4 linked regions of the Homo sapiens genome follow. The protein of the gene in region 3 purifies or fractionates together with the protein of the main gene of each other region. This does not show direct contact. Each region holds a gene or a part of one and is shown on either strand. Other genes may lie near its edges.

Region 1 (7,635 bases), on a different chromosome or scaffold from region 3:
AAAATAAAAAAACTAAATCACACACACAAATGAGTATCTGTAACTGGTAAAATCTGAATGAAGTCACTGGATTGTGTCAATATATATTTCCTGTTTATGGTATTATACTGTCCTTATGCACAATTTTAACACTGGGGGAAATGGTAAAGGATTTATGCAATCTCCGTGACCTCTTATAACAACATGTGAATTTATAATTATCTCATAAAATGTTTAAAAAAGCATACAGTGTGAACAAAGCCTTATCCAAAGAGTACATTTTGTATAATTTACAGAAGTCCTAGAAGAGGCAAAATTAACCTATGGTGGAAAAAAATCAGAGCAATGCTTGCTCTCTGTGCAATGCTTTTTGCTTTTTGTTTTGAGACATGGTCTCTCTCTGTCGCCCAGGCTGGAGTGCAGTGTCACAAACACAGCTTACTGCAGCCTCCACCTCCTGGGCTCAAGTGATCCTTCTGCCTCAGCCTCTGGAGTAGCTGTGACCACAGGTGCATGCCACCACACCCAGCTAATTAAAAAATGTGTTTTTTTGTAGAGATGGGGTCTCACCATGTTGTCCAGGCTGGTCTCAAACTCCTGGGCACCTCAGCCTCCCAAAGTGCTGGGATTACAGGCATGAGCCGCCACGGTCAGTCAGTGCTTTGTATCTTGCTTGGGATTTAGGTTGCACTGGGTATGCATACATTGGAACTCAAGGAATGGTATGCTCATGATGTGTCCATTTCATTGTGTTTAATGATATGCACGATGAAGTATGTATATCATATGAAGTATGTGAAGGAAACCAGAAGGTGCCACCCCAAGATATGCCTCTTTGAGATAAAAATTATTTTTTGGCCAAAGGCAATTAAGGAGCAGAAAACAGGCCAGGCGCGGTGGTTCACACCTGTAATCCCAGCACTTTGGGAGGCCAACGCTAGAGAATCACTTGAGACCAGGTGTTCAAGATCAGCCTGAACAATATAGTAAGACCCCATCTCCTGGAAAAAAAAAAAAAGAAAGGAAAGAAAAAATAAAAATTAGCCAGTCATGGTGGCATGTGTTTGTAGTCCCAGCTACTCAGGAGGATGAGGTGAGATGATCGCTTGAGCCCAGGGGTTCCAGGCTGCAGTGAGCTATGCTTGTGCCACTGCACTCCAGCCTGGGTGACAAGAGTGAGACCCTTTTGGTGAGAATGGAGACACCAGTAACTTACAGCTTAACAATCACCAATGAGAACTAAGAGCTCTAAATCAACCTGATTTTACTGTTCCAGGAATTCTTACTCACGAAGATAGGCTATAGGTCAATCCATACCTTCATTCTGAGCTTTAGGAACTTCCCATTTATCTGGTCTCTAAGTTGCTCATCAGGCTGCAAAGCTTCCTTCTCAGGCACTGAGAAGTTGAGCTGATCATTGAATTGGGCAAATCACCTTCCTTGTCAAAAAAGAGGGAAAATCTAACTTCAATTTCTTCACCTTGTTGGGTGTACCGTCTCAAACTATTCTACCATGAACTATGTCCAATCCCAGTGAAATCTCCATATTGAAAAGACCACCTTAAACCACTCTAACTAGACTATAGAACCCTATAAAAATCGCCCTCTGTAAGGCCGAGGCTGGCAGATTGCTCGAGCCCAGGAGTTCAAGACCAGCCTGAGCAACATGGTGAAACCCTGTCTATAGAAAAAATAAAAAAGTTAGCCAGGCATGGTGACATGTGCCTGCAGTCCCAGCTACTCTGGAGGCTGAGGCAGGAGGACTGCTTGACCCTGAGAGGTCAAGGCTACAGTGGGCTGTGATTGTGCCACTGAACTCCAGCCTGTGTGACAGAGTGAGACCCTGTCTCATAAACAAATAAAAATCACCCTTGACGTCCCCTCTGAGACACGACTAAGATTATGTCAAAGCAATGTTCTTTTTTTTTTTTTTTTTTTTGAAACTGAGTCTCACTCTATTGCCCAGGCTGGAGTACAGTGGTATGATCTCACTGCAACCTCTACCTCCTGAGTTCAAGTGATTCTGGTACCTCAGCCTCCCGAGGAGCTGTTACTACAGGTGTGAGCCACCATGCCAGGCTAATTTTTGTATTTTTCGTAGAGACAGGGTTTCACCATGTTGGCCAGGATGGTCACAAACTTGACCTCAGGTGATCCACCCACCTCGGCTTCCCAAAGTGCTGGGATTACAGGCGTGAGTCACCGCGCCCGGCCACAATGTTCTTTTCTAATGCTGTAAGAAACTCAAATTTACTTACTGACAGGTTATTCTGGTGGTCTTTGGTGGGGAGAGCTAGCAGTTGCAGTGAAGAGAGTTCACAAACAACAAAGTTTGGGAAATGCTGGCTTCCCATATGTTAAGACAAGGTAAATTTGGATTGGTTAGGAACTGCCTTTTGTAGTCCAGAGAGAGATTCAATGGCGCCATCAACAGATTAAATTAGGTAATATGGAAGACCAGGGAGGAAGAAAAAAATACAGGAGGTAGGTGGTTAAGAACTGTAGAACTTCCTTTCCTGTCTTCCTCCTTATGCATGATGAACACAAGATACAGACTGTAGAACTTTCTTTCCTGTCTTCCTCCTTATGCATGATGAACACAAGATACAGACAACTATGGGAACATCTGAACTAGTCAATATAATTAATTATTTTATGGTATGTCATGCTGTAATTTATATTACCTCACCCTTACTGATCTTCAGATTGTGCCCTAATATTTTGCACCTTTGCTTGGAGGATAAAGTTCTTAGCCTATATACAAAGGAAAGCCTCTGCGGCCCTAGCAACAATCTACCTCTAAAAGCCTTCATTCAGCTTTATTTTATTTTTAGAGACAGGGTCTCACTATATCGCCCAGGCTGGAGTGCACTGGCATGATCTCAGCTCACTGCAGACTTGACCTCCTGGGCTCAAGTGATTCTCCCACCTCAGCCTCTTGAGTAGCTGGGAGCACAGGCTACGCCATCACGCGCAGCTATTTTTTTTTTTTAGACAGGTTTAGCTATGTTGCCCAGAGGGGTCTCGAACTCCTGAGCTGAAGCAATCTGCCTCCTTCCGCCTCCCAAAGTGCTGAGAATACAGGAGTGAGCTACCGCGCCCGGCCTCAAGCTCTAAACTGCAGCAATAATCACTGGTAGTTCCTTTGCACTCAGGTTCCTAAACTTGAAATCCCACCCTTCCCGGACATCCTTGCCCAGATTCCTAACCTTTGAACACAACGTAGGCGTGACTTCCTTTTGGAAAGCCTTTTGCAAGCCTTCTGGGTATGGTTCTGCAACACCCTGTGTATATCTCTATCATAGCACTCAGGAACTGCATTATGTTTATTTGCTTACAGGGCTATCTTTCCCAGTTTTTTTTTTTCTTCTCCATAGAACCACAAAGTCGGATAAGCTGAGTTTCTTGAGGACAAATTCAGTAACTTGTAAATATTTGAATATCCAAGAGTTGTAGAGTACCAAACTGTGGAGCTCAATAAATTTCAGATGAACTAAACTGAATAGTCAGGTGGGATGCTAGATGGATGGGTCAGGAAAAAGAATTTTCTTTTTTCTTGCAAAGTGTTGGGATTACAGGCGTGAGCCACCGCGCTTAGCCAGGAAATATAATTTCTTTCTTTCTTTTTTTTTTTTTTTTGAGACGGGGTCTCATTCTGTCGCCCAGGCTGGAGTGCAGTGGTGCAAACTCGGCTCAAAGCAACCTCCGCATGCGGGTTCAAGCAATTCTCCTGCCTCAGCCTCCCGAATAGCTGGAATTACAGGCGACCGCCACCACACCCGGCTAATTTTTGTATTTTTAGTAGAGACGGGGTTTCACCATATTTGCCAGGCTGGTCTGGAACTCCTGACCTTGTGATCCGCCCGCCTCGGCCTCCCAAAGTGCTGAGATTACAGGCGTGAGCCACCGCGCCTGGCCAGGAAAGATAATTTCCAAGTACGAAATGTTGTAGATTGGGAGGACCTCAGTAGCTTGGGAGAAGTGCACAGTGGTGAGTTATAGGACGGCAATGAGGTCATGGAACTATGAAGTCAAGGTTAACAATAACGCGTGCAGGCAAAACTGAAAAGGGGCGGAACAAGGGGTAGCGGGTCTCCAGGACCTGGCATTAGGACGTGCGTGTTAGGGGGCAGGTATTTGGAGCCAGGCCCCACTTTCGAGTTGTCTTTCCGCAGGAACCAGAGACTGCGGACGGGGCCAGGAACCAGGAACCGTTAGGGAGATAAGGAAGGTGTTATAGCCCACATTCATCCTATACGGCCACAAGGCCGGGGGGCCCAGGCTGCCTCCTCACAGCATCAGCTTTTTCTTCGGCTTCATTTCCCTCTGGAAAGCGCTTTCTCACAGACGCTGCAAAGACCGAAGGGGCAGCCCCTGCCCTGCTACCCTCCAGGGAGCCACCGCTCTAGAGCCCAGGCTCCTCTGGACATCATGTGACTTGGGGGACGACTTGCCTTTCTTCTGAAACACGGCTACAGACTATAACTTTAAAACACGGGGCTTAGCTCCCCCTCAATAACGACACGGCCGTCAGTATTTACCACGTTATTGACCCTCTCCCAGCCGGCCCGCGGCAAGAAGAGTTCCACTTCCTTCCCGGAAAACGCGGCCGGAAGGGGCGGGCTTTCCGCCTGCACCAGGCGCTTCCGCCACCATGGCTTCACGTGGGGTTGTTGGCATTTTCTTCCTCTCTGCTGTCCCCCTTGTGTGTCTGGAGCTCCGGCGTGGGATCCCGGATATAGGTAAGTGTGACTTTTTCCCTTCGACAGTCACAGCTGGGTAATTTTCACAGGAATGTTGCATAGAACGACCGCCTCTTCGGCTGCGTGGCTTCGGAGCAGCTTTGACTACAACTCCCAGACTGCATCGCCCCTGCCCCCCCACTTCCGGAGCTGACTTCACTTCGAGGAACCTTTTCCCTCCAGGTGTGATGGTTTTACGTGTAAGAGGGTAGAGGCAAAGAGCACAGGGGCAATCATAGACAGTGCTTTCGCATCCTGGCGAACACTGAAAAGGAAATAAACAGGTTGATAAGATGAAGGTCTTGTGAGAATTTAGGCTGAGAAGTTTTTTGTTTTGTTTTTAGAGACAGGGTCTCACTATGTTGCCCAGGCTGGTCTCGAACTCCTGGGTTCAAGAGATCCTCCTGCCTCGGCCTCTCAAAGTGCTGGGATTACAGGCCTACGCCACTGCGCCCGGCCCTAGGTTTAAATAAGGGGCCACGCCCGTGAAAAGCCAGTGGGGGCAGGGAAGGGATGGGGGAGGGGAGGAATATTTTAGGCAAAAAGATTGTGACACGTTGGAGGAAAAGGTGAAGGCCATTGTGGCTGAATCAAGGAGAGTTGGGAGGAGGAGGAGGAGGAATTGGCTCAGGATAATGACGTTTATTGAACACCTATTATAAGCCAAACACCAGGTGCTGGTTATTATCTCATTTAATCTGCACTGCAATCAGAGGAGGGTAGGCACTATTATAATCCCCATTTTACAGTTGAGGGAACTAAAATTTAGGGAGGTTAAGTGACTTCCCTAAGTTTTAAAAAGGTCACTCGATTCTGTATGGAGAATGCTTTGGACAGAAGCTATGGTGGAAGCAGTGAGGCACATCAGGCTTTGGAAGTTGACAAGTGGTGATGATGGCCTGGACTAGAACAATAACAGGAGATGAAATGTAGACAGAATTGGGATATTGACGGAGTAGGATCAACCAACAGGCTTTGTTTATGGGTTGATGTTTGGGGCAAGGGAAAGGAAGGATTCAAGGACGACTGCCTCATGGGGGACTGAGCAAACCTAGGTATTTGGTAGTGCTACTGGTAAAGGGGAAATGGAAAGAAAAACTGTGGAGATGCTGAGAATCATGAGTTGATTTTTGGACATTTCAGTGATCAGTTTACATGTCTGTCTCCCTTTTTAAGGTCAATTCTAAAGTTAGAGACCATAATGAAACTTGGCTTTGTGTACTCCCTCTCTTTCTCCACATTTTCTCCCTGCTCACAAGGAGTCAGATGCCTAGAAATGTTGCGTGCAATAAGAAATGAAAATAAAATGCTTTAAAAAAATGTACAAAGACTGTCCTGAAGCTTCTCACTCACTCAAGCTGTGTTGGAATATAACAAGACCTTTATCCAAAGGATCAGAAATGTTGAATTCACACTCACCATTTCCGCAATTCACCTGTTCCCTTGTCTTTTCAACATCCACCCCTACTCTGCTCATTTATTATTTTTTGAGACAAGGTCTTGCTCAGTCACCCAGGCTGCAGTGCAGTGGCACGGTCATGGCTTACTGTAGCCTGGACTTCCCGGCTCAAGTGATCCTCCCACCTCAGCCTTCTGAGTAGCTAGGAATACAGGGGCCACACCACCATGCCTTGCTTATTTTTTGTATTTTTTTGCAGAGATGTGGTTTTGCCATGTTGCCCAGGCTGGTCTGGAACTCCTAGGCTCAAGCAATCCACCCACTTCGGCCACCCAGAGTGCTGGGATTATAGGTGTGAGCCACCGTGCCCAGCCAGAAATATGCTTCTTGAAGGCAGAGACCAAATGGAATTTGTTTTTGTATTCCCAGCACTTACCAGTGTCTAGTTTAATAGAACTAGGGACAAGGGTTCTATAAATTGCACCTGGGCTCCTGGCAGCATCTTTATCTAGTTCTTGAAATTTTCATGGGATTAGCTTCTTTCTCAGAATTCTGAACGAATGATTGTTTCCTTTGGATTGTTTCCTCTTTTCAGTTTTCTTTTTTTAATATATATTTTTTCCTTTTTTTTTCTGCTACCTTTGGATTCTTGATAGTGAGCTTCCAATAATTATTTCTTAACAGTATTTAAGTCTGTTTTATACATCATACTTTATACCAGCAGCAGGGCTGGTTATGCCTATACTGATATTCAGACATATATTGAAAAACTAGCCTTGTCTTTTTCTACTGTGTAAAAACCTTTATTGTCAATACATTTTACTTGTACTTAAGCTAGATTTTTTTTTTCTTTTTTTTTTTTTTGAGACGGAGTCTCACTCTGTCACCCAGGCTGGAGTGCAGTGGTGCAGTCTCAGCTCACTGCAACTTCCGCCTTCTGGGTTCCAGCGATTCTCCTGCCTTAGCCTCCTGAGTAGCTGGGACTACAGGCATGCACCACCATGCCCGACTAATTTTTTTGTATTTTTAGTAGAGGCGGGGTTTCGGTATGTTGTGCCAGGTTGGTCTCCAACTCCTGACCTTGTGATCCACCCGCCTCGGCCTCCCAAAGTGCTGGGATTACAGGCGTGAGCCACCGCGCCCTGACTAAGCTAAATATTTTAAGGCCAGTTCCTCACGTTGAAGTACACTGCTTATGGGGTCTATAGTTTAAGTACACAAAAAAATCCCAGCACTCTGGGAGGCCGAGGCAGGCGAGTCATGAGGTCAAGTAATCGAGACCATCCTGGCCAACATGGTGAAACGCTGTCTCTACTAAAAATACGAAAATTAGCGGAGCATGGTGGCGCACGCCTGTAGTCCCAGCTTCTTGGGAGGCTGAGGCAGGAGAATCGCTGGAACCCGGGAGGTGGAGGTTGCAGTGAGCCGAGATCACACCACTGCACTCCAGCCTGGCAACAGAGTGAGATTCCATCTCAAAACAAAAACAAAAACGAAAAAACCTTAAAATTTTTT
Region 2 (6,914 bases), on a different chromosome or scaffold from region 3:
TTCAGTATGGAACATTTTTGCATTTTTATTGGCCACTTGAACAACTTTATGAACTTTGTATTCAATTCCTTTGTCCATTTTCCTACTGGAATGTATACTGGTTTGTAAAAATTCTTTATAACTTAGATACTAACTCTAACTACACTATCTAATTGAGTAGTCACTGTTTACTGAGCACTTAAAACGTGGTTAGTCTGAACTGTGATGTGCTGAAAGTGTAAAATACTCACTGGGTTTTAAAGACAGTACAAAAAGATGATGTAAAATACTTCAATAATTTTGATATTGATTACATGTTGAAATATTTTGAATATACTTAATAAAATAGTATTAAATTTTATATATTTTATTATTAAAATATATAAATTTCGTTATTAAAATTAATTCTAGGATATATTAAAATTAATTCATCTTTAATTTTACTTTTTTTAATGTGGCTATCAGACAACTCAAAATTACAAACAGGGCTCTCATATTTCTTTTAGACAGTTTCTATTTTGCCTTTAAAGGCATTCCTCATTTTTAAGTATTCAAGCAATCCCTCAAGGTTTCCTCCTCTCCTTATGCTTTATAAGCTTTTCCCAGCCACAGGCATTTTAGAAGCATAAACTAAACCTTACTTCTAGACAAATAAAAACAACTGTTTTTAGATTTTCTTTCTCCAAAAGTTCTTCAAATAGTCTTCTCACATGCATCCAATTTAAATAGTACTCTTTTTCTAAATGATTTTTAAATTTTGCCATAATAATGGTTGCCCTTTTAAGAAATGCTTCATTACTGAAACTAAATTTTCACAAAGTTATTTTTAAAAACCTACTAAGCATTTTTAAGTGTAAAAAAAATTTTAATTTTTTGTAGTAATAAACATTCCAAACAACTTTGCAAAGTCATTTTGACCACTAAGGTAGGTAATAATTATCTGTGTTTCACAGACAGATGAGACAAAGAATACATAATTTTCAACATAATGACAGCTACACAGAAGAGGGATTACAAATTACACTGTTTCTTCTCCTTTTTGCCAACACTTAAAGGGCAGTTTAGACTAAATTTAACAGCCACTGTAATTTCAGTGTAAAATGCCAAAATTGCTTGGTCAATAGAAACAATTGTGTTAGAAACTTACTTGGGGATTCTGGAGTACAGTATAAACGTATGATTCATTTTTCTTTTTCTTTTCTTTTTTTTTTTTTGAGACAGGTCTCACTCTGTCACCCAGGCTGGAGTGCACTGGCATGCTCAAGGCTCACTGCAGCCTCAATTTCCTGGGCTCAAGCGATCCTCCCACCTCAGCCTCCTGAGTACAGGCTAGGATTACAGGCGCGCGTCACCAAACCAGGCTAATTTTTTGTAGAGAGGCAGTTTTGCCATGTTGCCCGGGCTGGTCTTGGAACTCCTGGGCTGAAGCGATCCACCCACCTCAGCGTCCTAAGGTTTACAATCTTCCTGAGGATTAGCAGCATGAGCCACTGCACCCAGCCGATGATTCATTCTGTCCATAAGGGAACCTGGCAGTATATTGCCAATATGGAAAAACTCAACAGTTACACTTTTCTATCACTACCAAAAAAGCCCTGGGAATAGTGCTGTTAAAATTTATCCGTTTGAAATTCTAAGATTCAGCTTTACATTTATTGCAAATAAAAGATACGAATATATTCTAATTTATATCCACAGCATAGTTACTATAGCTTATATTACATAAAATCTCGAATGACTGCAACTTCCGACTTCTTTCAGGAGGTCACGAACATGTTACAGGTTTTTTCAAACCTATGTTTTTACAGACAGCTCACTATGTTGCCAAGGCTAGCCTAGAACTATTGGGCTCAAAAGATCTGCCTGCCTCAGTCTCCCGAGTAGCTGGACTACAGGAGCGCACCACCACACCTGGCTTCGAACATGAATGTTTCGGTAAATACTCTCTGCATCCCAAGAATGGAGGGATTAGGTTAAGGGTGGACTTAGTTCTGTCTTCTCCCTCAGAGATCCTATCAGTTCTCAGTGTCAAGCAATGTGTGTCAAGCTACGGCAAAAACGAAGGTAAGCCTGATTAGTTCAATGTTATTTTGGAAACTCTCAAACCATTTAAATTTGAGTCAGAAAAGAATGTTGAGAGAGACGAAAATTCTCTTCAACCACCTTTTTTTCTGGGTTACCACTACAACTGCCACCTTTTCACCAAAAAGACTGCTCAGCCGAACTGAAGAGTTTCTTTGTTTTTCGGACCCAAACTGGGTTCATTCAATGATTGTCGGATACTTTCGTACTTCTTCCAAAAGATCCGTAGTGAGTAGCACCCCTCCTTCCTTTTAGAAAATTTAAGAAAATAAGTTGGGAGAGTAAGAAAAAGAAGGCCAAGAAAATCTCAACCAAGTGCTAAATGAAGGTGCGCTGGAAAGCTCCAAAGACCCTGGAACTTTGCGGAGTCCGCAATTTCCAACCGCGGAGGTGAGTAACCGCGGGACACCGCGATGCGCACGTAACATTTTGTTTGGTACAAAGCGGTAGGCTTCAGAGGTGCAATCCGGCCCGCGAGGTGCCCACAAGTTCCCGCGGGGGCCATGCTAGGGCTGCAGAAGGCATCAGAGTCAGAGACCTGTCAGGACCCCCGCGGGCTGCGCAGGCTGAACTGGAAAGGCGGAGGCCAGAAAGGAAGGTTCTGAGGTTGGCGAAAGGCAAGTGGGCGAATTGCCCCAGGCGAGGCGCCGAGCCCAGCCTGGCCCTCCAGTTCGGCTTCTACGGAGCCAGCGGCCAGCGCGGGACACTCACCCTGGCGGTCGCTGGGATTACAGGCCGCCGCCCTGCATCGCAGACGGAGCCGGCACAGGGAGGACCAGCTACATCTGTGGGCCGCGGCGGCGGCCAAGCCGGGTAACATCCTGGTGGGGCAGAGGCCCCTACTCGGACACCGCCTTCTGCCTCCGCGCCGCCACCGGTACCAACTGACTCCATAGACTGGACATCAGCGAACACCGATGGCTTCGCCGCCACAAGCTGCCTGGGTGACCCGGAAACGGCAACGTCATTTAGCGACGCCTGCCGTGGAGGTAGCGGAAGTGACGTAACACGTTGAGCACCAATAGGGAGGCCTTCCTTCCCGGGGACCCAGACTCCCAAAGTGGGGAGGGCGTGGCTGCAGGGGAAGTTTGGTGTCTGCCGTCTTCTTTTGCACCTGTACTTTTGCGCTTGGTTGGAAATCACGTAAACTGTTTACATCTTGTTCAGCCAGGAAAGCTGTCCTTTGGGAGTTCTACTTATTCCTTTTTTTCTGGACTCGAAACCGGGGCCGTGGTTTCGGAAATGGGAGGAAAGATGGGAAGGATGGACGCAGGTTTTCTGAGCCTCTCTACCTAGAGCCTGCCAGGATAAACCCAAATTAGAACCAACATGTCCAGTACTCTCCGAACGTCTGCCACGTACATCGTTCTCCTTGTTAACACCAGTGTGTATCCAGTATCATAAAGGCAAGTACACACTTCGGAATCAGCTACTTGCCCTACTAATCTGTGAACCTCAGATTTTTGCCTGCAATATAAGAGGTTTTATGTTCATGACAAGTTAGGGTAAACGGAGGTATGCAGACTTCGAAACATTTTGGTCCCAGGGAGAAAGAAACCTGAACAGTATCCACGTTAACTGTTTCTCTCTGCCATGCTCATTCAGCTCTTAACTCAAACTCAAGAGAGGCCTTCCTTGACCACCCTAGCTATGGTAGTCCTGGTCATTCTCTACCCGGCTGTCCTATATACTTTTCTTCAAAACGCTTATCACTATTTGAGATTTTTTTTTCTATTTTGTGTCCTAGAATAGAAAATAAGCATCATGATGCTGGAATCTTGTCTATTTTGTACATGGCTGTATAAAGCCGCTAAAACAATGCCTGGCAAAAATAAATTGAATGGAATGTATGGTGGTTTGTTTTAAAGTTAATCTGAGTCGCTTATCTATATTACTGCAAAATAACTATCTCGGGGAAATTTAGTATGTCCTTAATTTTTAAAAAAATCAACAAGTCTCTTATACTAATTGAGATAAGTATAACCAAATGAGGAAAGAGATTATCGTTAAGAATGGTAAGCAAATTTAATTTCCTATGACAAACATAACTTAAAATATTCAGTGGACAAACATTAAAAAATGATGTCCCATAAATGTAGGCTCAATATTACTAAAAAATCTGAATATTACTGGAAAGTTACTTTCCCTTTCTTGTAATAGATTTTAATAGAAATTCAACTTTATGAAGTAAAAATACATAAAGGCTTACCTCTTATTTTATGGTAACTATGCAAACATCTATTAACTTTTATGGATAATTCTTTTTGAACAAAACTAATCTCATATTTTGGATTCTTAAAATGGCTTTGGTTTCAACTCGTTTTAGGCAAGCCTGATCAAAACTTCTCAGGTTTTATTTTTAATTTGTGCGATAGGATTATTATTTTTATTTTGTTTAGCTGTACTAATCATTTTTAGAAGAAAATGTTCCTTTCTTGATAAAACTTTTAAAAAAAATACATTTTGTGCAGAGTTCTTAATTTCCATAACAGCCCACCTGATGTGTAAAATATGTTGGTGCACAGTAAAATTTCACAGTGTGTGCTTTCCTGTCCTTCTTTTTCCTGGTATAGTTGGGGTGTAACTTGACTTAGACACTACTAATTGTTATAAACCTCCAGTACCCTTGATTTGCCAAATAAGTTTGAAGAACAAAGTGTATCATTTTCTGTTACCTTAACTCTCACAATGCTGTATCACATAATAAAGCCTCAACAGACTTGGATTAAAATAACTCTGCAGTTGTCTTGGTATTTATACCTACATATCATGATATACTTATCCTTTTGGAAAGTCTTTGAAACTTCCCCAAGTGCTAAAACTTAAGATAATGTCAGTTTTAGAGTTCCTTAGGGGAATTTCCTTTGACCCTAAATCCCATCCTTACCAAGAGACTTTGTTTTTATGCTCCATTTGAGACACATTCAGCGTTGCCTACCTATACATAACAGGTAAGATTCTAGTATCATAGGGCTTATTTTCTATTGGAAGAGGCAGCAAATTTATAAATAAATATATTGATAATTTAAAACTAATAGCAGCAGTAGTAATATTAATCATTTACTAATTGCCAGGCCCTCTGTGTACACTGTCTCATTCATAATACCTTAAATAAGTTATAGGTAGACGAAGAAACCAAGGCACAAAGATCTTGATCTTAAACACCACTCTTTCTAAGTCAATGGGTACTTGCCTTTGGAAGAAAATGTGATGTCTTCTCAAAAGACTTGAATGATAATATGGTGTTCCTATTTTTTTTTTCCTGGAATGTAGGTTAAGAGAGAATTTCCCCAGATATTTTTTACTCATGTGATCAACATGGTATAAAATTGTCCAAGTTTCATGAGGATACATGATATAAATAGATGCCTAAATATAGGGAACTATTAAGTCAGATAGATAGAAACAGAAGTAGGAAAGGAGTGAAGTGTCATTTGATTATTACCATACACCATAATTCCTGCAAGGTTTTCCATTAACTCTGAAGAAGTTCCAACATCTTTCAGAAATTTGCTTGTGCAATTGAGCTAACTACTATTGCTTGGTTTCATCCTGTCTATAGCTTTGGGAAAATAACTCTGATCTTGAGACAAACTTGACTGGTTATCTGGAAAACTGACTTAGATAATCCATTACAAAATAAAGTAAGTGGCTCTATCATGAGGCTTACCAAAAACACAAATTTAATTTTGAACACAGACATACTTGTTGTCATCACGTTTTGGCGATTTTTTTTTTCTTTGCCTCTAGGAGTGGGGGAGGAGGGAGCTTGCCCACCTGAACACTTCAATAAGAAAATGGCCCAGCCTGGCCAACATGGCAAAACTTTTTCTCTACTAAAAATACAAAAATTAACTGAGAGTGGTGGTGCACACCTGTAATCCCAGCTACTCGGGAGGCTGAGGAATAAGAATCACTTGAACCCAGAAAGTGGGGGTTGCAGCGAAACGAGATTATACCACTGCACTACAACCTGGGCAACAAAGTGAGACTCTGTCTTGAAAAAAAAAGAAGCAAGAAAGAAAATGGCTTATAGCCAGGTGCTAGTGGCTCATGCCTGTAATGCCAGCACTTTGGGAGGTTAAGGCAAGAGGCCAGAAGTTCAAGACCAGCCTGGGCAACACGATAAGATCCCATCTGTACCAAAAAAAAACAAACAGAAAACAAAACTGGCTTATACATGGGTAAAAAGAATTACCTGGTCACACCCCCTCTCCTGTACAACAATGGTCAGAAGCAATAAGGGTCTGCACAGACACATTTGGCCTGTAAAGGCAAACATGCAAAAGAAATGAAACATGCACTTGATGTGGTTTCTGACCAGGTCTGACCAGGTTGCTAATCCTCGTCTCCATTTTTCAGAGAGGTGAAAGGTTTTTTCTACAGTTCACTTAGCAAGAATGTCACAGAAGATGGAATCAGACTCAGGTCCTCTAACTCCAAATCAGTTTACATGGTTGAGTGAGCATTGCAGAGGAGGAGAGAAGGAAGGAGTGGCTTGTTCTTACAGGTTTTCCCTCTGACATTATCCTATGAAATTACTTGTGGGATTTTTTTTGTCACAATTATCTTGTCAAATAGCCATTTAGTAGTCCACTACCATTAAACTTACGTTCACTCTTTGCCACTTCCATCCAAGAAAAGGAGAATGATTTCTCCAATGATAACTGTATTCCTGGATCATAGCTCTCTTATTCAACACTTCTTAGCTTCTCCAATAAAAGCTCCTTCTCTGCAATTTACCTGGTATGGTGGAGAAAAAATTACACATACACACACTTTTCCTTAGAGGGTAGTGAACAAGATTCATATTACAGCTGGAATAATTGAGTTATTAAATACTCCTGGAGGCA
Region 3 (5,085 bases):
GGGATGGTCTCGATCTCCTGACCTCGTGATCCGCCCGCCTCGGCCTCCCAAAGTGCTGGGATTACAGGCGTGAGCCACCGCGCCCGGCCAGATTATCATTTTAATCATATAAAAATAAGAGATGAATTGAGGTCCATCTTGGATGTTTTTTCTTCTATTAAAGAATTAGCCGGGCACAGTGGCTCACACCTGTAATCTCAGCACTTTGGGAGGCTGAAGCGAGTGGATCACTTGAGGTCAAGAGTTCGAGACCAGCCTGGCCAACATGGTGAAACCCCATCTCTACTCAAAATACAAAAATTAGTCAGGCGCGATGGCACAAGCCTGTAGTCCCAGCTGCTCGGGAGGCTGAGACAGGAGAATCGCTTGAACCCAGAAGGCGGAGGCTGCAGTGAGCCAGGACTGCGCCACTGCACTCCAGCCTGGGCAACAGAGCAAGACTCTTTCTCAAGAAAAAAAATTTTAAAAAAGCAGACTATTTCTAAGTATAATTTAACTAAAAACACTACTTCAACTTCAGATTTATTTTAATGATATATACAGGAGTTAACAACTTACAATTAAAACAAAATCAGTTATGTTAATTCCACATAACTTAAAATCATGCAATACTGCATGGTAAAAACAACAGCTTTGTTCATACACAAAAATTATTATTTTGAAACTCATGAGACCATCTAGAAATTTTTCAAATAAACTTTTTGCAAGAGTATTTTATAAAAATTTAAACACCTGATTAATCAGTTAATGCATTATTAGGAAAGATAATAAACATTATTAGTAAAGTGAGGTTACAAGCAATTAATTTTAAAATTACACCAGGTACAGGGTTGAACATAATCTCATGAAATAAATGTTTAAGAAAATAGTTTTGAAAAAGATCTCATACTGAAGCCATGTTAAATTTTGATAAACCAGGTTATATAAATCAAGTCGTTTATTCAGTTAATGAAAATATGCCTAACCTTTCTTATACTCATAAATAAGTACTTATATATAATCTTTATATACAAGTGAAGAAAAGTTCAATGTAAAAAATATACTGCCAATCCACTTATTATGGTTGAAATATTTATCTACACATTAGACTGCATTGATGAAAATGTCCAATTTAAATCACATTTGACCAGCATAAATATTTAAGCTGAGTACTGTCGTAAACAATAGAGAAAAAAATCCTTTTATTTTTATTTTTTATTTCATTACTGGGTAACAATCTACTTCTCAGCTTAGAATGCTATAGAAAGCCTCCACATTTAATTTAATCAAATCTGAAACCCAATAAGCTTAAACAAAGTGAATGTTTTTCAAAGTGCATAATTTCCAACTCATCCACTTGCAATATTTATCCAATTCCAGTTCATCAGCAAGAAAATAAAATGTACTTGGCTATAAAAATACTGAGGAATGTTATCGAAAAGGAAAGGCTATTTGGTAGAAGTAACTACAAAAATAATTAGTTTAAATCTTTGTAAAGCTTTAATGTAAGAACATCAGTACACTTTCTTTACATAAACCTTAAAGCATGATCAATACCAAGATTTCAAATTTTCAACTTTCAAGTACTTGAAAAAGGGTTGCAACAAAGTGTCTCTTCCCAAAAAAGCAAGAACAGTGATCATGCAGGTGTTAATCTGCAGACATCTGAGGACACTGGTATCTGTGTTGGGCTGTCATTTCTGGCTCCACTGGCAGAGAGTGTAGGCAAGGCATTACTTTGAAATGCAGATGTAGGACAAGGAGTCATGACAACATTTTCGTCTTCACCAACGTCTGAATCTGGTGTTGTAACTTCACTGCCTTGAAGCCCAAGGATCTCACAGACTGCTTGTGGCAATTCCTGGATATGAAAAATCAAACTCAAAACCATATTTCACTACAGAGGAAAAATAACCACAAAGTAACACTTCTGTTTAAGACTACATTGATTCCAGAATCTGAGCATTTGTCCTAACAGTGTAAATGTCATGTACCCTTCTCACAACATTTTTCTCAGCTCCAAATGAAATGCTAACCACCTTTCGCCCTAAGTGGTTCTTGGATATCTTCCAAATTAGTCACTCTCCATCCCACCTCCACATTCCCACAAACATAGCATGTCCTAATATTTGGCATTTATCTCTTTCTACTTTTTGTAATAATATCTTTCTTAGATCATCTGTCTCTCTCAGTAAACAAAGTTCTTCAAGGCAAGAAGTATCTCATTGACATGCTTTGGAAGAGAACAGGTATCAAATAAATGTTTGTAGAACTGAACCAAGTAACAGTTTGGATCAATGAACAAATGATACAAGGACCAAGCAAGAATTTTCATAAAAATGCAAAGTCATAAGGGGTGCAGCAAACCAATGTGGCACATGTATACCTATGTAACAAACCTGCATGTTGTGCACATGTACCCTAGAACTTGAAGTATCAAAAAAAAAAAATGCAGTCATGGCCGGGCGTGATGGGTCACGCCTGTAATCCCAGCACTTTGTGAGGCCGAGGTGGGTGGATCACCTGAAGTCAGGAATTCTAGACCAACCTGGCCAACATGGTGAAACCTCGTCTCTACTAAAAATACAAAAATTAGCCAGGCATGGTAGCAGGCACCTGTAATCCTAGCTACTCGGGAAGCTGAGGCAGGAGAATCGACTGAACTCAGGAGGAGAAGGTTGCAGTGAGCCGAGGTCACGCCACTGCATTCCAGCCTGGACAACAGAACAAGACTCTGTCTCAAAAAAAAAGCAAAGTCATGAGGTGGGCACAGTGGTGTGCATGCACTGGTAATCCCAGCTACTCAGGAAACTAAGGCAGGAGGATCACTTGAGCCCAGGAGTTCAAGGCCAGCTTGGGCAACTTAGCAAGGCCCTTTCTCTTAATAGAAAGAAAAAGCTAAAACACATCAAAAGTATACTGCTTTGGTTCAAATTCAGATAATACATCAAATTTGCCTTGTTTTAAAATAATTAATAACTTGACTAATATAAGTGAGTGACACAGGCTAAATAATATTGATTTAATTATTTCTGATTAGCATTCATTTTTGTTTAGAGATTCTGCATATTTAATATGACAGCCTATTCTGCATTCATGAGCTCAACTGGGTAATATATCATTGCTGAAATTCTACAGCCTCTTTGTTATAGAAATATTTTCATTACTTTTACCATTTTGCCTTATTATTAGCTGTTTCCTATCTGCCATAGTCAACTGTTTTCAATTAAGTGCTGTAAATCTAGAACAGCAAACAAAAAGCCAGCCAATACTTTGTGCCTGCCCTCAGCTTACTAAAGTTGCTATTTTATTTCCAAGAAGAAAAATCTTTCTTGATCTCAACCCACCAAAAACAAACAAATCTTGCAATTACTTGAAACACTGTATACCTTGCATTTTACCATCTGTAGAGAAATTGCTTCTGCCTTGCAGAGTATATCTTCCACATCAATTTTCATGGACAATTCATTGATATGCTAAAAAGTATCAACAAAATAAAATGATATCGAAACTGAATACACTATTATATTCTATTATATAAACAATTTATTACCAGTTATATTTCACTGCAGATAAAATCCTTAAAATAAAAACATTCATATACTACAAATACGTAAGAAATTCAATATATCTTTCTTTAGATTATTTCAAGTTTTAAAGCTAAAGACTAGCTAATAAGCTTATGGAACATTAAATCCAGCAGCTATTCCAAGTCTGATATCTCAAAGTTATAATCAAAAGACAATTAATTTTTGAAAAACTAAACTACATAAAAGAGCACTTGTTGAATTTCCTTTTCTTCCTAATTAGCCAGGTAAAAATAACTGGCCAATATGTATTTGAACTGTCATTCTCAGATAGTCATTCCTAGCACTGTTATTGACACAATTTAAGTTACTCAAGAGATTTAATAATGTTCCAAGGAAACGTTCTGTATATCAGGACCACCAAATAGAAAAGCCAGAACACTAAAATCTGAATTAAAGGAATAACTACCTTAAGTATTTCATTGAAGCCATAATGCTTTTCCATTATTTGCTGCTTTTCTGATTCCAGAATAGCACAACAGAGAAGAAGATGGAAATTTGTACATGGTAGTTCGGTCCACATTACCTATAGAAGGCAGAAGAACTATTTTGCAAATTGTATCAATTCTAAAACATTTTCCTCACAGATACAATTCTGAACACTGAATGACTTCTATGCAAAGTAGATGTTGCCTGTTTAGGGTAGCCCAAGGTTTTTCTAGCTAGGAAATGAGGGGAAGGAGAGTCTTACCTTCAGCTACAAAGTAACTATCATCGAGTTTATATGAATATGATATATTCTAAATGTGGCTCTTTAAGGTAACTATAGTAAGTAAATTACTGAGCCTAACCAGTATGATAAATGTTATTAATGCAGGAGCTACAGACACAAGGTTAAGGTGTAAGGGTTAGATGTATTTTCAATATTTTTCTGAAGTATCAGTTTCTCACTTCGATCTGAGAAAAGACTAAAGCTAAGTCCTGGAAATAAAAAAAGGTTCAGTTACACAGTACATGGAATCAGAAACACCCAGAGGTAGCTCTACATTCTAAATACGTAAAACCCTTGTATCACATTTTATCCCTGATTGTGACAATAACTGAATTAACTGCCCCAAATTTATAACCAAACATAGAAAACGCTTGATCAACAGCTCAGCTGTTCCTAAATACAGATAATATCCTCGAATTTAGGGTCTTAATTTCCCCCTGCTTCATGTACCTAATAATATATTTTCCACAAAGATAAAAACACCCACACAAACCATACCATGAGATCATACCCGAAATGTGTTTACTTCTTTCAAAAGGAGTAAATCAAGTTGAATAATTTTCAAACTAAACCCAATTGTTGAAAGTTTAATTACAATGCAATTAACCTCAAAGGTTTCATTAAAAGTTTGAATTTATTTAGTAAACACAGATTGAGGAGTTATTCTAGCTATGTGGTAATAATATTCTTAATTCATCCTTTAAAACCCATTTATGCCTGAGGATGCAATTTTTTGAATTTTTCAATCAGACCTTGGTGATGACCTTGAGCAGTAGGATATAAACAACTCCCACATGCTTAGCGTTC
Region 4 (7,030 bases), on a different chromosome or scaffold from region 3:
AGATGAACAAGACCTGACCACCATGCTGACTTTCAAACCCTGTGATTTGGTAATGGGAGAAAGACAAGTACCAGTCAATACAGGTGTGGTCATTCTAGGATAGAAATCACTAGAGGTGGGGCTGGGTGTGGTGGCTCATGCTTGTAATCCCAGCACTTTGGGAGGCCGAGGTGGGCGGATCACGAGGTCAGGAGATTGAGACCATCCTGGCTAAGATGGTGAAACCCCGTGTCTACTAAAAATACAAAAAATTAGCCTGTAGTCCCAGCTACTTGGGAGGCTGAGGCAGGAGAATGGCATGAACCCGGGAGGCGGAGCTTGCAGTGAGCCGAGATCACGCCACTGCACTCCATCCTGGGCAAAAGAGCAAGACTCCGTCTGGAAAAAAAAAAAAAATCACTAGAGGGTACCATGAAAGCTCATAAGAGGGGACATTTCATCCACATTGGCGCTGAATCTGGGATGTGCCCCTGGAAGAAGGGTTTCCTGAGAGTTTTAAAGGACACGTAGAAATTAGCCAGGAGGACAGTGTGGGGGTTGACTTGTGTCTGAGGACCCTGCATTTCTTCAGAGTGGATGTAAGAAGGATTTGGGGAGTGATGTGGAACTGCAGGGGCTACAGGGCCAGGTGGGGCCCCTGCTAAGGGGCTCTTAGCTTTTATCCTGTGGATAGGTGGGGGCCTTTGGAGAATTAAGCAGGGAAGTAATATGATTAGGAAGATGATTCTAGTGGCAAAGTAGAGAATGGGTTGCAGAGGGGCAGGGCCAGAGGCAAGAGAACCAAGGAAGAAGCTTATGCAGTTGATCAAGTAAGATATTCGGATGTCATGAAGAAAGCAGACTTGAGAAAGAATGAAGTGGAATAGATGAGTTGTGACCTCCTGGACATTGGAGAGAGGTAGGAGTCAAAGAGGTTTGTGGCTAGGATGGCTGTGGGTGGGTGATGTTACTGTTCACTGGATGGAGACTGCAAAAGCAGGGGCTTTCTGGTCAGGGAAGATGATGAATTCAGCGTTGGACATGTTGATTCTGTTGTTGTTGTTGTTATGGAGCTTCACTCTTGTTGCCCAGGCTGGAGTGCAATAGTGGTGTGATCTTGGCTCACTGTAATCTCTGCCTCCTGGGTTCAAGCGATTCTCCTGCCTCAGCCTCCTGAGTAGCTGGGATTACAGGCATGCTCCACCACGCCTGGCTAATTTTGTATTTTTAGTAGAGACAGGGCTTCTTTCATGTTAGGCTGGTCTTGAATTCCCGACCTCAGGTGATCCACCCACTTTGGCTCCCAAAGTGCTGGGATTACAGGCGTAAGCCACCATGCCCAGTTGACATGTTGATTGTTGATTTCAAAGTACCTTCTGGATCTCCTGGCACCATCTCTCACTGGCTGAACTCCAACCAGGGAGCCCGCTGATGCAGTCCATTCAGATTCTCCCTGGATCTCAGGGAGCACAGCAGGGAGGGATGGAAAGTGGATTTGGAGGGACAAACAGATTATATCTAGCAGATTAATACATGTTATAAAAAAGATACACAAAATAAGGATTGAAATACCATTAGCAGGCCAGGCACAGTGGTTCACACCTGTAATCCCAGCACTTTGGGAGGCCAAGGCGGGCAGATCACGAGGTCAGGAGATCAAGACCATTCGGGCTAACACAGTGAAGCGCCATCTCTACTAAAAATACAAAAAATTAGCCAGGCATGGTGGCAGGCACCTGTAGTCTCAGCTACTCGGGAGGCTGAGGCAGGAGAATGGGGTGAACCCGGGAGGCGGAGCTTGCAGTGAGCCGAGATCGCCCACTGCTATTAGCAGCAAAAGGATTGTAAGGATTGTTGGTGGCTTTGCATTGCATAGTGTTATTAGAGTCAGATTCTCCTCCATACTTAGGTATTTTTTGAGGGCCTGTACTTTACCCTCAATGGACATGAGACATAGTTCTTGCTTTTGGAGAGTTTTGTGAGGGTTATAATACATCATGGTTAAATAGTTCCCTTTTTTTTTTTTTTTTTTTTTTTTTTGAGACAGAGTTTTGCCCTGTCACCCAGGCTAGAGTGCATTGGCGTGATCTCCACTCACTGCAACCTCCGTTTCCTGGGTTTAAGCTATTGTCCTGCCTCAGCCCCCCTAATAGCTAGGACTACAGGCACGTGCCACCATGTCCGGCTATTTTTTTGTATTTTTGGTAGAGACAGGGTTTTGCCATGTTGTTCAGGCTGGTGTCAAACTCCTGGCTTCAAGCAATCCACCTGCGTTGGGTGTCGGCCTCCCAAAGTGCTGGGATTACAGGCGTGAGCCACCATGCCCAGCCATGGTTAAATAGTTCTGATAGTGGTTATCTCTGTGTAGGGAATCTGAGTGACTGGAGGACCGGGAAGGGAAGTTTTTTTTTTTTTTTTTTTTGAGACAGAGTCTCGCTCTACCCAGGCTGGAGTGCAGTGGCGCAATCTCGGCTCACTGCAAGCTCCGCCCCCTGGGTTCATGCCATTCTCCTCCCTCAGTCTCCCAAGTTGCTGGGACTACAGGCGTCCGCCACCACGCCTGGCTAATTTTTCTATTTTTTTAGTAGAGACGGGGTTTCACCGTGTTAGCCAGGATGGTCTCGATCTCCTGACCTCGTGATCCACCTGCCTCGGCCTCCCAAAGTGCTGGGATTACAGGCGTGAGCCACCGTGCCCCGCCAAGATTTTTTTTTTGACTTAATTTTCCTTTGTTCGTTTGGATTTGTATCATGACTGTATTATCTATTCAAAAATATAAATTGAAGTTTTAAAAAGCAATCTTAGTGATCATATAATTAAGTACCAAAGTGAACGGTATGGACCAGAGGTAGTGGTGGACTGTTGACCTGTGGGCTGAATCTGGCCCTCAGAAGGGTTTTATTTCACCGACATGGGGCCTAGCATTTTCTTTCATGGAGTGATCAACAAGTCATAAAGGCAGATTTATTGGAGGCCATGGAGGCTCAGAGGTGACTGAGGCTTTGCTGTTTGGTGCCTGGGAGGAAAACTTGTGTGACGGGGCAATCAGGAAGCCTCATTTATGGCCAGTTAGATTTGGGTGACTGGTGAGGCATGAGAATGGAAGGGACCAGCAGGCAGCTTGGAAGTCAGAATCTGGTGCAGGTGAGCAGCCAGGGGGAGATGCACACTTGGCGGTTGTCAGCATGGAGATGCATTGGGCAGGGATAAGGTGGAAATCCAGCAAGATAGGAATTTGGGCCATGTGAATGCTGGAGACCCCCCTGCCACTTCCCCTGCTCAGGCCTATTCTATGTGAATAGACAAGTTCTGTGAACAAGAAAGAGGGAAACGCAGAAGGGCAAAGACAGCTTTGAGGAACATGGAGCAGGGATGAGAAAAATCAGAGGAGCCACTAAAGGAGAAAGGGAAGCACTAGGCGAAAAGCGGGGCGGAGAGCCAGCAGGTGAGCAGCTCTGTGACTGCCCCTCCTGGATGGCCTGTAATCTAGGGCCAGAAGAGTTTTATTTTCAGGTTCAAAGAGAAAGGACCCATTTCCCCATCTTAACCCTCTTTTTTATTTTTTTGAGATGGAGTTTTGCTCTTCTTGCCCAGGCTGGAGTGCAATGGCGCGATCTTGGCTCACTGCAACCTTTGCCTCCCAGGTTCAAGCGATTCTCCTGCCTCAGCCTCCTGAGTATCTGGGACACAGGGATGCGCCACCATGCCCGACTAATTTTGTATTTTTAGTAGAGACGGGGTTTCTCCATGTTGGTCAGGCTGGTCTTGAACTCCTGACCTCAGGTGATCTGCCCGCCTTGGCCTCCCAAAGTGCTGAGATTACAGGCGTGAGCCACCATGCCCAGCCTCCCATCTTAACCCTCTTAACCCTTCAGTGTTTACATGATATCCAGCTTTTGCCTCATCCTGCCTCCCACAGATGTCCAGACCAAGATAGAACCTGTCTCTCCATGTTCTTCCGTCAACTCTGAGGCCTCCCTGCTCTCAGCCGACTCCTCCAGCCAGGTGAGCACCACCTTCCTTCCTTCCTCCAGGTTTTCCAGTGAGTTCCTCCTGACCTAGAGGTATGAGAGCTTTCCCTTCTTCAGCTCCTTCTCCTCGACACTCTTCCTGACTAATGTATCTCTGGAATGCCCCACATAGGCTTTTATAGGAGAGGAGGTCCTGGAAGTGAAGACAGAGTCCCTGTCCCCTTCAGGATGCCTCCTGTGGGATGTCCCAGCCCCCTCACTTGGAGCTGTCCAGATCAGCATGGGCCCATCCCTTGATGGCTCCTCAGGTAATGGAGTCTCCTGACACTTGGAATCCCTAGTGAGAGGCCTTTGGTCCTGACATTTCTTGTTCTTTTCTCTCACCTTCCTTCAGGCAAAGCCCTGCCCACCCGGAAGCCGCCACTGCAGCCCAAACCTGTAGTGCTAACCACTGTCCCAATGCCATCCAGAGCTGTGCCTCCCAGCACCACAGTCCTTCTGCAGTCCCTCGTCCAGCCACCCCCAGGTACTGAAGAAGGAGAAAAGGGCCGGGCATGGTGGCTCACGCCGGTAATCCCAGCACTTTGGGAGGCTGAGGCGGGCGAATCACCTGAGGTCAGAAGTTTAAGACCAGCCTGGCCAACGTGGTGAAACCTTGTCTCTACTAAAAATACAAAAATTAGCGTGGAGTGGTGGCAGGCGCCTGTAATCCCAGCTCCTCGGGAGGCTGAGGCAGGAGAATCACTTGAACCCAGGAGGCGGAGGTTGCAGTGAGCCGAGATCATGCCACTGCACTCCAGCCTGGGCGACAAAGCGAGACTTTGTCTCAAAAAAAAAAAAAAGAAAAAAGAAAAACCAAAAAATAAAAATAAAAATTAATTAATTAATTAAAAAAAAAAGGCCAGGCACAGTGGCTCACGCCTGTAATCCCAGCACTTTGGCAGGCCAAGGCAGGCGGATCACAAGGTCAGGAGATCGAGACCATCCTGACTAACACAGTGAAACCCCGTCTCTACTAAAAATACAAAAAAATTAGCCAGGCGTGGTGGCGTGCGTCTGTAGTTCCAGCTGCTGGGGAGGCTGAGGCAGGAGAATGGCGTGAACCCGGGAGGCGGAGCTTGCAGTGAGCCGAGATCGCACCACTGCACTCCAGCCTGGTCGACAGAGCAAGACTGCATCTCAAAAAAGAAAAAAAGGAGAAAAGGAGGCGGGCTGCATTGACCCTGTCAGAGAGCTTGCAGCCATTGAGGCTGCCCAATCCTTGGGTGCTCTTGTGTGGGTGTGGACACAAGGACCCCACCCAGCGCACAGCCCTCTGACCTCTGCTCACTTGCCCCAGTGTCCCCAGTTGTCCTCATCCAGGGTGCTATTCGAGTCCAGCCTGAAGGGCCGGCTCCCTCTCTACCACGGCCTGAGAGGAAGAGCATCGTTCCCGCTCCTATGCCTGGAAACTCCTGCCCGCCTGAAGTGGATGTAAGTGTTGGGGAGGAGAGAAGTAGGGCGAGTGATGGGAAGGGAAGAGGGAAGTCTTGCCATAGAGAGAACTGTGGGATGAGGAGGGAGTCGATACCTAGGAGAAAAAAGTGAGGAAACGGACCCATTAGATCATTCTGAGGGTCAGAATGGACTCCTGTTTCTATATGAATATCAACTCCAGGTAGTTTTAGGGTCCTTTAGGTTTGCTGTCACTGCAGATGGAGAAATGGGGTTGGTCTCCATAAATTAAAGGCAAGGAAGTCGTACTGTACTATACGACTACGGTCATGGCCATAGTTGGGGAGGGAGGCTGCCTCCTAGGGGAAAATCAGGTAAACTGTATAAGCAGTATAACAAGGTTAAACTTTGAACCCTACAAATGTGGGCTGACAGGAAGAAAGAGTTACGAAGGAAAGAGTTTCCACCAGCATGGAGAAAGTTCTTCCCACACTCTAACCTTTCCCACCTCTGAGGAGCAGTAGCAGGGAATGTTTGAAAGAAGGGCCCCTTCCCTAGCGTGTTTGAGTAGAGAGGAAAAACCTCTCTGGCTATGTAGGTGGGTCAGGAAGGCAGGGGAATGGCCATGTGAGCTTTGGGTAAATCATTCCTTGGGGTTTGAGAGCATAGTCTCCTTCTGCCAACTCATCTGTCATTCTTTTTTGACCTTCCGGGTGCCTAGGCAAAGCTGCTGAAGCGGCAGCAGCGAATGATCAAGAACCGGGAGTCAGCCTGCCAGTCCCGGAGAAAGAAGAAAGAGTATCTGCAGGGACTGGAGGCTCGGCTGCAAGCAGTACTGGCTGACAACCAGCAGCTCCGCCGAGAGAATGCTGCCCTCCGGCGGCGGCTGGAGGCCCTGCTGGCTGAAGTAAGACCAGTCTGTCCCTGGGAGACCAACAGGAATACAGCCTCCTTGGAATGATTCCCCTTTTTCTTGTCTCCTTCTTTGTACCTTAGAACAGCGAGCTCAAGTTAGGGTCTGGAAACAGGAAGGTGGTCTGCATCATGGTCTTCCTTCTCTTCATTGCCTTCAACTTTGGACCTGTCAGGTGAGACCTTCCTTGCTTCACTAGAACCTTCCAGGTGGAGCCCACGTTACAGCCTCCTAGCTGCCTGCTTTGGCCCAGGCCATTTCCTTCTGCTTATATACAAATGGTTCTGGTGTCCTTGGCACCGATGATGTGTCTGGCCAGCCCCTTCCTGCTCCATTATTTGTCTTTTTTTCTTGGAGATGGAGCCTTGTTCTGTTGCCCAGGCTGGAGTGCAGTGGCACGATCTCGGCTCACTGCAACCTCTGCTTCCTGGGTTCAAGTGATTCTCCTGCCTCAACCTCCCAAGTAGCTGGGACTACAGGCGCACGCCACCATGCCCGGCTAATTTTTTGTATTTTTTAGTAGAGACAGGGTTTCACTGTTGTTGCCCAGGCTGGTCTCGAACTCCTGAGCTCAGGCAGTCTGCCCACCTCAGCCTCCCAAAGTGCTAGGATTACAGGCTTGAGCCACCTCGCCCGGCCTCCTGCTCCATTATTTTTCCAGTGGAGAGTAGATGATGGTGATAATGCTGGTAGAAATAGTGACTATTAAGTGCTTACTGAGTTCTAGGCTCTA

Evidence for each region.
Region 1: the proteins of TBC1D15 (region 3) and UBXN8 purify together in Homo sapiens (affinity purification with mass spectrometry; 4 studies listed by BioGRID and IntAct, with this or other methods). This does not show direct contact.
Region 2: the proteins of TBC1D15 (region 3) and SLC30A9 purify together in Homo sapiens (co-immunoprecipitation; 3 studies listed by BioGRID and IntAct, with this or other methods). This does not show direct contact.
Region 4: the proteins of TBC1D15 (region 3) and ATF6B purify together in Homo sapiens (co-immunoprecipitation; 3 studies listed by BioGRID and IntAct, with this or other methods). This does not show direct contact.

The regions. Positions count from the first base shown.
Region 1 is NC_000008.11:30,739,557-30,747,191, forward strand, and holds the start of UBXN8 (UBX domain-containing protein 8), read left to right. Parts: upstream 1-4,607; 5' UTR 4,608-4,633; coding exon 4,634-4,721; intron 4,722-4,771; coding exon of another isoform or gene 4,772-4,904; intron 4,905-7,635. UniProt on the Homo sapiens protein: Involved in endoplasmic reticulum-associated degradation (ERAD) for misfolded lumenal proteins, possibly by tethering VCP to the endoplasmic reticulum membrane. May play a role in reproduction.
Region 2 is NC_000004.12:41,986,619-41,993,532, reverse strand, and holds the start of SLC30A9 (proton-coupled zinc antiporter SLC30A9, mitochondrial), read right to left. Parts: upstream 3,004-6,914; 5' UTR 2,882-3,003; coding exon 2,773-2,881; intron 1-2,772. UniProt on the Homo sapiens protein: Mitochondrial proton-coupled zinc ion antiporter mediating the export of zinc from the mitochondria and involved in zinc homeostasis, zinc mobilization as well as mitochondrial morphology and health.
Region 3 is NC_000012.12:71,919,738-71,924,822, reverse strand, and holds the end of TBC1D15 (TBC1 domain family member 15), read right to left. Parts: intron 4,111-5,085; exon of another isoform or gene 4,093-4,110; coding exon 3,976-4,092; intron 3,456-3,975; coding exon 3,369-3,455; intron 1,841-3,368; coding exon 1,619-1,840; 3' UTR 510-1,618; downstream 1-509. UniProt on the Homo sapiens protein: Acts as a GTPase activating protein for RAB7A. Does not act on RAB4, RAB5 or RAB6.
Region 4 is NC_000006.12:32,118,217-32,125,246, reverse strand, and holds part of ATF6B (cyclic AMP-dependent transcription factor ATF-6 beta), read left to right. Parts: intron 1-3,898; coding exon 3,899-3,984; intron 3,985-4,122; coding exon 4,123-4,258; intron 4,259-4,344; coding exon 4,345-4,476; intron 4,477-5,289; coding exon 5,290-5,423; intron 5,424-6,105; coding exon 6,106-6,291; intron 6,292-6,380; coding exon 6,381-6,472; intron 6,473-7,030.